Linked DNA regions of Homo sapiens: region 2 is linked to region 1. The links come from fine-mapping of genetic effects on gene expression. A gene starts in region 1. The other region holds a variant in brackets. All regions are shown on one strand. Distances are from middle to middle. Region 1 holds the start of CDK5R1 (cyclin dependent kinase 5 regulatory subunit 1). Region 2 overlaps MYO1D (myosin ID).

Region 1 (5,368 bases):
CTCTGCAGGACAAATGTCATGTGCACCAGCAAGAGGCCTTAGCCCTTAGGTGGGCACCGGCTTGGTCTCAAGGTATGGCATCCCTCACCTTGCCCAGAAGGCAGGCGTTGCTAATGGGCACCTGCAGCTGTCCTGGCATTTGCCACAGGGTGACTGCACTACATTATTCAAAAGAAAAACTCACCCAGGAAAGCTGTCCCCAGCTTCACCCCACCTCTTTAGCTGGGACCCAAATTGAGAGAAATTAATGAGTCAAACCAGCTCATCGGCCAATACCACCAACGTGGCTGGGAGCAGCAGACAAGGGGGTAGGGGGGCGAGTTCCATTTCTCCACTAAAGAAAAGCCCTTCTCCCTAAAAAAAGAAAACAGCAAATCAGGGCGGTGTGTGGTCAAACGACCAGACACAATCTTTCCACTAGACCCGCTCAGCTTCGCCTCGCCTAGATTGAAGATGTCCCCGGGTGGCGGGGATCTTGCCTCACGACCCCACTGGCAGCTCAGTTAGGGTGGCTGGCTCCAGGAGCCTCTGGGAGAGTGAATAACTCCACACAGGAGCCAGAAAAGGGCCTCCAACCAGAAACCCCAATTCCTCCCTGGGCCAGGCAGCCAGAGGCCCCTCTCTAGCTCCATACAGGGTGCAGCCGGCAGCCTTGCCTACCCTGGACCCAGCAAGGGCACAGGCGGCAGGGGCAGGTCAGTCCTTTGAGTTCCCCAAAGTGGGAGGTCAGTGGCCTGGGTGGCTCTGAATACATCTTCTGGGTTTTGCGCAAGGCTCGTGAGTTCAAAAGTGCCCAGAGTTCTTGGCAGGGATGAAAAAAACCCCAGGGAGAGACTGTGGGAAAGGTGAGGCCCTTGGTGGCTTTGCTAGACACATACTGTACACAAAACTGATTTAATAATAAATTCTTAAAAATGCATTGAATCCTTGAGCCATGACGCAGGCTACAGTGCTCACCGATCCAGGCCTAGGAGGAGCCGCTTCTTGTCCTCCTGGCCGCTCTCGTTCTTCAGGTCGGAGAAGACCTGTGTGAAGTAGTGTGGGTCGGCATTTATCTGCAGCATCTTTGAGCTCATGAGGTTGATGACAGAGAGGCAACGGTCCCAAAAGGCCTCCTTGCAGCTCTCCACCAGGAAGGGCTTGAGCGGGTAGGAGATCTCGTTGCCCATGTAGGAGTAGGAGAGGTACAGGCATGTCAGCAGGACGGCCTGGAGCTCGTGATCCGAGCCCACCTCGGAGGAGATAACATCCCTGCAGAGCATGTAGAGGAAGACCACGTTGGCCGGCGTGATGAAGCCCTGGTCCTGCCAGCCCTGCAGAAGCAGCGAGCGGTCCACGCTGCGCAGCCAGAGCACGGGGTCCGTGGGGGACAGGTGCTTCAGGCGGTAGCACCGGCGGCAGAGAAACTCACCCAGGCAGCGAAGCAGCTCACTGGTGGACGCCTGGACGATGACCCGTTTGGGCGTCCCTGCGGAGGTGACGGCAGGGTGAGGGGCTTTCTTGACTGAGGAGGAGCCCCCGGTCTGGGAACCCGAGAGCTGGCTGGCCGGGGGTGCAGGCGGCTGGGCCGGTGGGGGCTGGGCGAATGTGGACAGGTTGGCGCACGACAGCGACTTCTTCAGGTTCTCATTGTTGAGGTGCGTGATGTTGTTCTGGTAGCTGCTGTTGGGCTGCACCTTCTTGGAGTTCTTCTTCTTGGCCGACACGGCCACGATTCTCTTCCAAGGCAGCACGGAGATGATGGAGTGGCGCTTCAGGTTCTTGTCCTTGGCGTTCTTGCTGTTCTGTACGGCCGTATAGTGGCCCACGGTGGCCGCGCCATCCTCAAACAGCGTGGCCTTCCGGTAGCTGGGAGACAGGGACAGCACCGTGCCCATGGTGCTGCTGCGCGCCGGGCGGGGGCTCGCGCCCCTGCGCGCCCAGCCTGCCGGCCGGAGGGATAAAACCGCTCACCGAGCCTGCGGCGGCCCCGGAGAGGAGGCGGGGGCGCTCCCGGGAAGCGTGCTGCCCCCTTGGATCTGCCTGGAAAACAAGATGGTTCTTAGCGCCAGGCTGGGCTCCGCGCCGCGCCCCTGCGCCCCTGCGCCCCTCCGCCCCGCGCCTCGGCGCACCCCGCCGCCCCAGTCCCGGGCCCTACCCGCGCCCCCGCGACGCAGCCTCGCCGCCTCCACTGCAGCACCCCCGCCCGCCGCCGCCGCTGCGGTCCCCAGGCGCAGCCGGGAGGGGCCCGGTCGCCGACGGAGGCGGCCGAGGACCCCCGCCTGGACACCCCGCACGGGCGCGACCCCGGTCTCCGCTCCCCAGGGCCAAGGACGGCCGCCCAGCGCAGGCTTACCCGGCAGGCGGCAGCTCCTGCGCTCCGCGCCCTCCGCAATGCGCGCCGCGGCCCCGCCGCCGCGGTCCCGGCGCTCGGCGGCGCTCGGGGGCGCTCGGCGGGGATCGGCTGGGCTCGCGCTCGGCGGCGGCGACGGCGGCGGCGGCGGCGGCGGCAGCTAGGGAGCTTCTGTCCAAGGTTCTGCAGGCACCGCAGCCCCGCCCCCCGCTCGGCCGCCCGCACCTTCGCCGCCGCCGCCGCGCTCCCGCTCCCGCTCCCGCTTCCGGCGCGCGCCTCAGCGCCCTCCCTCGCGGGGCGCGCGCGCCGTCCACGCTCCGGCCTGGTCTCGCCGGGGAGTCGCGGCCGTTGGTGTCCTCAGCTCGAGCCGCGCACGGTGCGGGTAGGACGCGGCAACGAGCGGGAGGCACCTCTACGCGCCGGGCCCCATCTAGGAGCCGGACTCCGCGGCTGCGGCGGGACACGCGGCGTCGGCCCGCCCCGCCCCTCGGGGCCGCCCCTCCCGCACAGCTCGCCGCCCGCTCCGCGCCGCCGCCCAACAGCAGCCCGGCCGCCGGAGAGTCCTCGGCGCCCGCGCAACCCAACTCTGCCGACGCGGGGCGGGCGCCGAGCAGGGCGGAGCCGAGGGCCGACCCCGCCCGCGTCCCGCCCAGACACGTGCTGCCTTTGTTCCCGCCGCGGCGCCCGCAGCTGCCGGCCGCGGGGGCACTCTCGGCCGAGTCCCTGCCCTGGCAGCGCGCGGCCCGCCCTCTCTGAGGCTGCCGCCCTGGCCTGGTGAGGAGCCCTCCGCCGAGGCCAGGGTCCGGAGCTCCCTCCTTCCACCTGACATCCCCGTCCCTGTGGAAAGCAGCCAGGGAGCGCGGGGAAGAAGGCCCTGGGCGGGGAGAGGCGACGCCTTTACTGAGGCCTCCCGAGTGCCACGCGCACCTCGAGTGGACAGTCCAATCGGTTCTGGCCACCCCTCCGGGGCCTCCGTTCCCTCATCATGGGTAGATGACCGCGGCCGAAGTGGGCCTCAGAGATCCAAGCCAGAGAAGCGTGGCCCGTAGCCAAGCCTGAGCCCGTCACAAATATGACCTCTAAGTTCCCACTCGCCCTCTTATTTGTCATATTAAAGCTGAAGCAACTGCCCCTCCGGCCAGCTTTCTGACCCTCTTAAACGTTTTCAATTCTAAGTATGTATAATTTGAGAACTTGATGCTAGCGAAATTGAGTAAAATTCTGTTTCTGAAAGCTGTTCCTGTCAGATGTGAATCCAGATCCTTCACAAAGGCTGTTGTTCATTTACTATTTTACCTTGTTTCTGGAGATCGAGTCAAAACTGACCACAAACCTGGGAAACAGGAAACTTAAGCCCTGTCTTAATCCAGATTATCTCTGGACCTAGAGATGAGGGAGTGGCTCTCCAGAGGAGAGGATGCCACCCAGTTACCTGACCACTCCAGCCGACTAGGCTTTCACCAGCCCTGTCAACTGTCCTAGGGGGAACAGAAAGGGAATCTGGCATCATTCAAAATGGTGCAATCAAGGCAGAAAGTGCTGGGTTTTGTTTATGTGCCACTCAGATTTCTGTCAATAGGAATTCCAGGCTTTAGGAACCTTGGGGGGCAAGGCATACAGTGGAAAATGCATTGCTCTGTACCCAGAGGGCTACTTTGTCCACAGCCTTTCAGAACATCCACAACAGCTGTTATGGGAACTCAGAAGAGGAAGGCAGGCCCCCAGCTCAGTGCGCCCCTCCCTGTGAATGTTCCTCAGTGTACAAGCCTACCTGCTCTTCAAATGGAGCTGTCCTCAACCCTCCTGCATGTAACAGTAAGAAGCCAGAAGAGGCCGACGCAGTGGCTCATGCTTGTAATCCCAGTATTTTGGGAGGCCGAGGCGGGTGGATCACCTGAGGTCAGGAGTTCGAGACCAGCCTAGCCAACATGGTGAAACCCCGTCTCTACTAAAAATACAAAAAAAATTAGCCAGGCGTGGTGGCAGGCACCTGTAATCTCAGCTACTCAGGAGGCTGAGGCAGGAGAATCGCTTGAACCTGGGAGACAGAGGTTGCAGTGGGCCGAGATTGCACCATTGCACTCCAGCCTGGGCAACAAGAGCGAAACTCCATCTCAAAAAAAAAAAAAAAAAAAAAAAAAAAGCCAGAAGAAACGATTTGCTTCGAGACCCTGACCAAGTGTCCCTTTTCCTTCTCAAAGGAAAGCCGAACCCCAGCCTCTTTTCCTCAGCCCTTACTTGGAGCCTCTAGCTCCTGAGTTGGCTCTGTGCCCCCCTTCAGATTCTAGTGTTGAGCCAAGGTTAAATGTTTTCCACTTCCCAAAATATGTCCAAATTTTGAAGCCTATAATCCACCCCGGCCAGGCGTGATGGCCACACTGTGTCCAGCAGTTTCAGAGGCCAAGGCGGGCGGATCACCTGAGGTCAGGAGTTTGAGACCAGCCTGGCCAACATGGTGAAACCCGTCTCTACTAAAAAAATTAGCTGGGCGTGGTGGCGGGTGCCTATAATCCCAGCTACTCGGGAGGCTGAGGCAGGAGAATAGCTTGAACCCGGGAGGCAGAGGTTGCAGTGAGCTGAGATTGTGCCACTGCATTCCAGCCTGGGTGACAGAGTGACACTTCGGCTAAAAAAAGAAAAATCCACCCCCTAGAAAAACCTGGGCCCACTCTGTTACCTTTAACTCTCAATCTCAATTCTAGCTATTCCAATTCACGGGGAGGCGGACCAAGCTCACCCCACTACCCTGCTTCCCACTCTGCAGCAGCATGCCTCTGCATGGGCCTTTTCAAGCCAGGCCATACCCTGTGTCTTCTCACCTTTGTCCAGCCAGCCTTTCCCTAGCACCTTCAAACAGAGCTCTCGGCAGAACACCAGCCTCCTCACACTTGCCCAAGGCAAAGTCACAGTTGCAGCACAGCAGGAATGGGATGGCACTGGCAGCCCACTTGCTGCTGCGACTAAGGGAGGGGTCTCCAGGAGCTCCTATCACCCAGGCCATGCCTGTTATGCTGGTTTTCAGACACCACAGAGCTC
Region 2 (5,368 bases), 80 kb before region 1:
GGCACTTCCTTTCACTTCCCCTGGGTGTTCACCATTGTGAGGAACAGGTTAGATGGGGAAGAGCTGCACAAGAATTTCACACAGTGTCTTTTCTGTGGCAGATACTATTGCAGAATTGGTCATGCAGGTCTGAGAACACCACATGTAAGTTAAAGTACAAGAGGCCTGTGTGTCCTTGGGCCCAGTGCACCTGCAAACACTTCCTCGATTAGTCAGCGCTTAGCTGACTTAGTGTCTTGGCCTAGAGCAATACTATCCCCAATTAACAATGGAAGTGAAATATGCCCATTGCTGTCTTCACCCAGAGAAAATAGATTGCTCATATATTACTTCTTCCATACACTCACATGGAAATCAGCTGAAGTTTCTATGACACCAGGACAGTCAGCAGCTCTGCCATAAAACATTTTAGTCATAAACATCTATTTATAACACAGACCTCAATGTATTTATTTAAAAGGCACCAGATTATCTAGTCGTGGGATTTATTTATTATCAACTGACAGTTTCTGAACACGAAGGATGTACAAAACACTCCTCTACATATTGGGGGTGGCCACAAGGATGACTTAAACCCCCCAACCTCAAGGAGTTCCCAGTCTAGAGAGGGCAATACACATAAAAACAAATGATGACTGTGTCCAGTCAAGATGCATAGGAGCATAGAGGCTGGACCTGTAATTCCAGTGAGTAGGTGCAACTGCACTTCGAGCTGCTCTGGAGGTGTGTGCACTCACTCTTCCAGAAGAGAAGCTGGAAGGGCTGAGGTCTGGGACAGAAAGCACGGAAAGGGCAGATCCCTCTCAGAGGCTGATCTGGGTGGGGAAGAGTCAGAAAATGTGGGTTCAGTTCAGATTGCCAAGGACCTTCTATTCCATGTGAGGTGACCACAGATCCCAGTTTCCCAAGGTTTATGTCTGTTGCTCCAACATAATCATCAATAGAGCTGCGTCCTTTAACTCTCAAGAGTGTCCCAGATAGATGATAAGTCCCACAAACACCTGACTTATACAGCTGTGCAAAGGGGGTTGATAGGTTATATAAAGCAAATGAATGAATCAGATATGTGTCCTGGAAAGATAACTCCAGCAGCCATGAGAAAAACAGTTTGCAAAGGGATGAGACTAGAGACGGAATCTCTCCATACAGACAGAAGTAGAATGAAACATACTTGCCTTGAAAACTAACCATATTCTAAACATGGACTTGCCTAAATGTTGGTTATAAGATTGTCTCTGTTTCCAATGACAATTTTTTGAACTGTGTCAAGTTGCATAGATGTTCTGAATGTCTTTTAAGTTCTCAGTAATTTTCAGAAATAATGCTAGCTGCCTGACACCAGCCTTTTTTTTTTTTTTTTGTAATAACGCAGAAAGATAAAGAGGATTCTGATAAATACCTGGGGGAAAAAATCTCAAGACTCTTTTGGGAAAAAGGACTTAATGTTGCAGAGGAGCTCTGATCACCCAGGTTTGGTGCAGAAGTTTGCGTGACCTTTTTCTAGGAAGCTGCCGCTCACCATTATTGCAGCATACCTTTTGCATTGTTTTGCTAGTCTTGCAAATAGGTTTCACCAAGCCACCCACACTTCCCAGCCATCTTTCCTGAAACTACTGAATGCACCTCTGAGATGGATTGGGGTGTAGTCTCCAAGGCACAAAGCTGAGTTAATTGGACGTGGAGACTGAACCTGTAGCAGTGGCCTCGTTAGCACCACTGAACTACCCGGACACAGCCTCAATGATGCAAGGCACTTTTGGTAAGATGCTTCCTGTAGGTGTCCTTCTGTGCACATATGCTCCCTTCTTCCAGGGCTACTTGGACTTGATGACTAAGAATGATGAAAGAATGAGACCCTACAGTGGCCAAGTCATCCTGAAGGGACTGGCCATGACTGAAGCCCAAGTTCTTAGCATGTTCATGCTTGAGAAGCAACACAGCACAGGGCAGAGAAAGAGTACAAGGTTTGGAGTGAGATTGGTCTGTGTTTAAGTCCATCCCTGCTACTTACTAGACAAGAGACATCAGACGTTACTTAACCTTTGTGTACCTTATTTCCTTCCCAGGATTGTGACGACAACACCTGCTGTACCTGGTGGTTGGGTTTGTGTTAACCTAGCCAAACCCCCAGCACAGGTGTGGCACATGTAGGTGCTTAGTTGACGGTGGCTGATTTTATTAACTGTTGTCAT[A/C]GTGATTATTACAGAATAGGTTCTGTTTAAATACATTCATTCGCTGAGTCAGCATCTATTTCTTGAGCACATGTCACTTGCTGAGTCGTGTTCTCTGCCCTAGGGATATAGCCATGAACAGGATAAACAAGGTTCCTGTCCTCAGGATGCTTAGACAAATGCTCTAATTCAGCTCTTCTTTTTTCATTTCCTGCTCAATTTATTGACTTCTGCCACCCCTTCATTTGTTGCCCTTTCCCAGCATCCTCTACCTTCAGCCAGAAACCCCTGTTTTCTCAGTAGCTTTGTCCTGTTAATATCCCAGAAGCCTGCAGCCGCATCATCTGCTCCTTTTTGATTTCCTCCATTCTGTGAACATGGATGGAGCACGGGCTTTGGAATCAACCGTTCTGCCCTCAGTCCCAGCTCTGCCGCTCCCCACCTTGGATGCAGAGGCTCCCATTCCTCTGTTGGAAAGATCACACAGATGTGTCTCAGAGGCTTGGTACACAGTGCCTGCCTGATTTGGTTAAAAAGAAGCTTAAAAGAGAAAGACCAAAGAGGGAAGCTTTTACAAGTTGCTTTTTAAAGCTTTGGAAGTTTGTGTTTGAGGCTTCAAACAGATAACTAATTAAGTTCTAGCACTCCCTGTGATTCGGACAACAACCGTAACTACTGTCATGTTACTACTATTAATTGATTCTATTTGGTTCCAATGACACGAGTCAAAAAATGTTTTCCCAACTGTGGTTGGACTCAGTTGACTTTCCAATCATATCACTCCCCTCCTTCAGTGGCTACTCAAGATCAGGTCTGAGGTCACTCCCACAGCCTACACGATGTGGCCCCACCTCCTCACTCTGCATTTTCCTGCACTTACCTGCAGGCTCACCTGCAGGCCACAGCAGCTTTCCTTGGCTTCCTCAAGGAAAGCCCCTCACTGCCTACCTCAGAGACAGCTCCGGTGCCGTGCCCTGTGCCAGGAATGCTGTTCCTAACCTCTTCCCCAAGCCCCCGTGCATCTTCCAGGTTTCAGCTTAAATGCTACTTTCCCAAGGAAGCCTTTTCCTGACCCTCTCCTCAAACAAGTCTAAGTCCTCATGTTAGTGTCGTCTTCTAGCACTCTGGTTTTCTCCTTCATAACACCACAGTTGTACTTCCTTTTCGTATACTTTTTTTTTATTTAACATCTGTCACTTTCAGGGGGTTATAAGGAGCACATGAGGGGAGGACTGTGTCTACCTCCCCGTCTAGAAGCACAGGAACTATGTGTTGAATGAATATATAGGAAGCTGTAGATGGATTTCTTATCACTGCATATATTCAATCTTAGCTAGAAACACACTCTGAAGGCCGGGTGCGGTGGCTCACATCTGTAATCCCAGCACTTTGGGAGGCTGAGGTGGGTGGATCGCCTGAGGTCAGGAGTTCAAGACCAGCCTGGCCAACATGGCGAAACCCTGTTTCTATGAAAAATACAAAAAAAAATTAGCCACACCTGGTGGCACGCACCTGTAGTCCCAGCTACTTGGGAGGCTGAGGCAGGAGAATCACTTGAACCTGGGAGGGGTTGCAGTGAGGCAAGATCTCGCCACTGCACTCCAGCCTGAGCCACAGATGGAGACTCTGTCTCAAAAAAAAAACACACACACTCTGAAACAGGTGTGTGGAATTGACCTTCAGATCTGGACTTCCTGTTCAGATGCCAGTGGTAACAAAGTCATTACTTGATAATGTTTACTGATGGCCATGACCTAGCTCAGTTCAGTCCTGAGTAGATGGGCATTCACAGCAGCCTACTTAGCAATTATGTCACCGGCCATATGAAGACTGGCCACTCCTGAGAGCAGAGGTGACAAAGCAGATGATCGAGGGCTAAGGGCTGAATAGATTCCAGAATCTGAGCAGCCACTTTCACCAGGTCATATCTCCAGGGTCCAGAGGTGAGGTTTTAGGGGGATGGAGGTGGGAGCTGCATCATAAAAGTGAGCAGTGCCAGGGTGCCTTTCGTTGCTACAAGGAAGAACCCTATCTTAAAGGAGCAGTTTTTGCACATGAAGGTATTTTCTTCAGGCTGGGTGTGGTGGCTCACGCCTATAATCCCAGCACTTTGGGAGGCCGAGGCAGGAGGATCACCTGAGGTCAGAAGTTGGAGGCCAGTCTGGCCAACATGGTGAAACCCTGTCTGTACTAAAAATACAAAAATTAGCTGGATGTGGTGGTGAACACCTGTAGTCCCAGCTACTCCAGAAGCTGAGGCAAGAGAATCGCTTGAACCTGGGAGGCAGAGGTTGCAGTGAGCTGAGATTGCGCCACTACACTCCAGCCTGGGTGACAGAGCAAGAAGCCATCTCCAAAAAGAAAAAAAGTATTTTCTTTTTCTTTATAATGAAATGATGTCTAGTTATATGCATTATGAAGCAGGAAGAGTTATCATCAAGGGTGATGGACTGTTTAACGTAATTGTGAGATGGGGGGTATGCTGTTTCTAGAATTAACACAGATTGACCTTTGTAACAGTGACCACAAAATGCAGACAGGCCTGATGGGGATTTGTTCCTATACTCTTCCCTGTAAACACCACATGGCTTGGAGCCTCAGTTGATGCCTTAGAGTCAGGGTTAAAGGTGCAGCTATGTGGAAGGGCTTCCAGCTCTTTGTTATGTCTTGTGCTCACTGCTGCTTTGCCACTTACTTTGTAGTCGTCTGTCTACTTAGTCCATCTCCCCCATTAAACCACAAGTTCATTGAGAACAGGGACCATGTCATAAATATATTTGACTCATCCCTAGCACCTAGCACAGGAAACACTAAATAAATACCGAAAGAGGGAAGGAAGGAAAGCAGGTAGGTCAGTAGGCTCTGGTTAAGGGAAGGGATGGTGTAGGGTTCACCCTGGGCTGTACACTATGCTCCAGCACTGACTGTAAAGCCACTTCATAATTGCTAAGTAGAGGGTGTCGGCTTAGAAAGGAAAGGGACCACATGCTGACCAAGATTTTCCCAGGTGACACTGTGAAGGAAGCTGATGTCAGCTTCACATCCAGACTTGTGTGAGTAATTAGAAACTTCAGAGGGAGGGTAAAGAAAATCTGCCTACTAGTTGACAGCCCCCTTCTCAGCCCATATGGATCAACTCATGAAGGGGAAGAAGCAGAGGGCATGAGGATCCATTCCCAGGTTAGCCTGGGCTCTGC

Evidence for each region. PIP is the estimated chance that this variant, and not a neighbour inherited with it, causes the effect. A credible set is the group of variants that fine-mapping cannot tell apart.
Region 2: its variant is the best candidate, but not a certain one, in a credible set for the expression of CDK5R1 in unexposed skin (GTEx, PIP 0.59).

The regions. Positions count from the first base shown.
Region 1 is chr17:32,484,130-32,489,497 of GRCh38, reverse strand. It overlaps CDK5R1 (cyclin dependent kinase 5 regulatory subunit 1), which reads right to left and starts at 2,505. Exons shown (of 2, transcript NM_003885.3): 1 at 2,336-2,505; 2 at 1-2,022. The coding sequence starts at 1,877. The coding sequence ends at 954. RefSeq lists enhancers at 1,419-1,978, 3,218-3,719 and silencers at 1,866-2,155, 2,246-2,505, 2,616-3,145.
Region 2 is chr17:32,564,179-32,569,546 of GRCh38, reverse strand. The region is part of intron 21 of MYO1D (myosin ID); the gene reads left to right. Among named protein-coding and RNA genes, the nearest start is that of CDK5R1, 80 kb to the right of the region's middle. The variant A/C (reference allele first, on the strand shown) is at 2,193.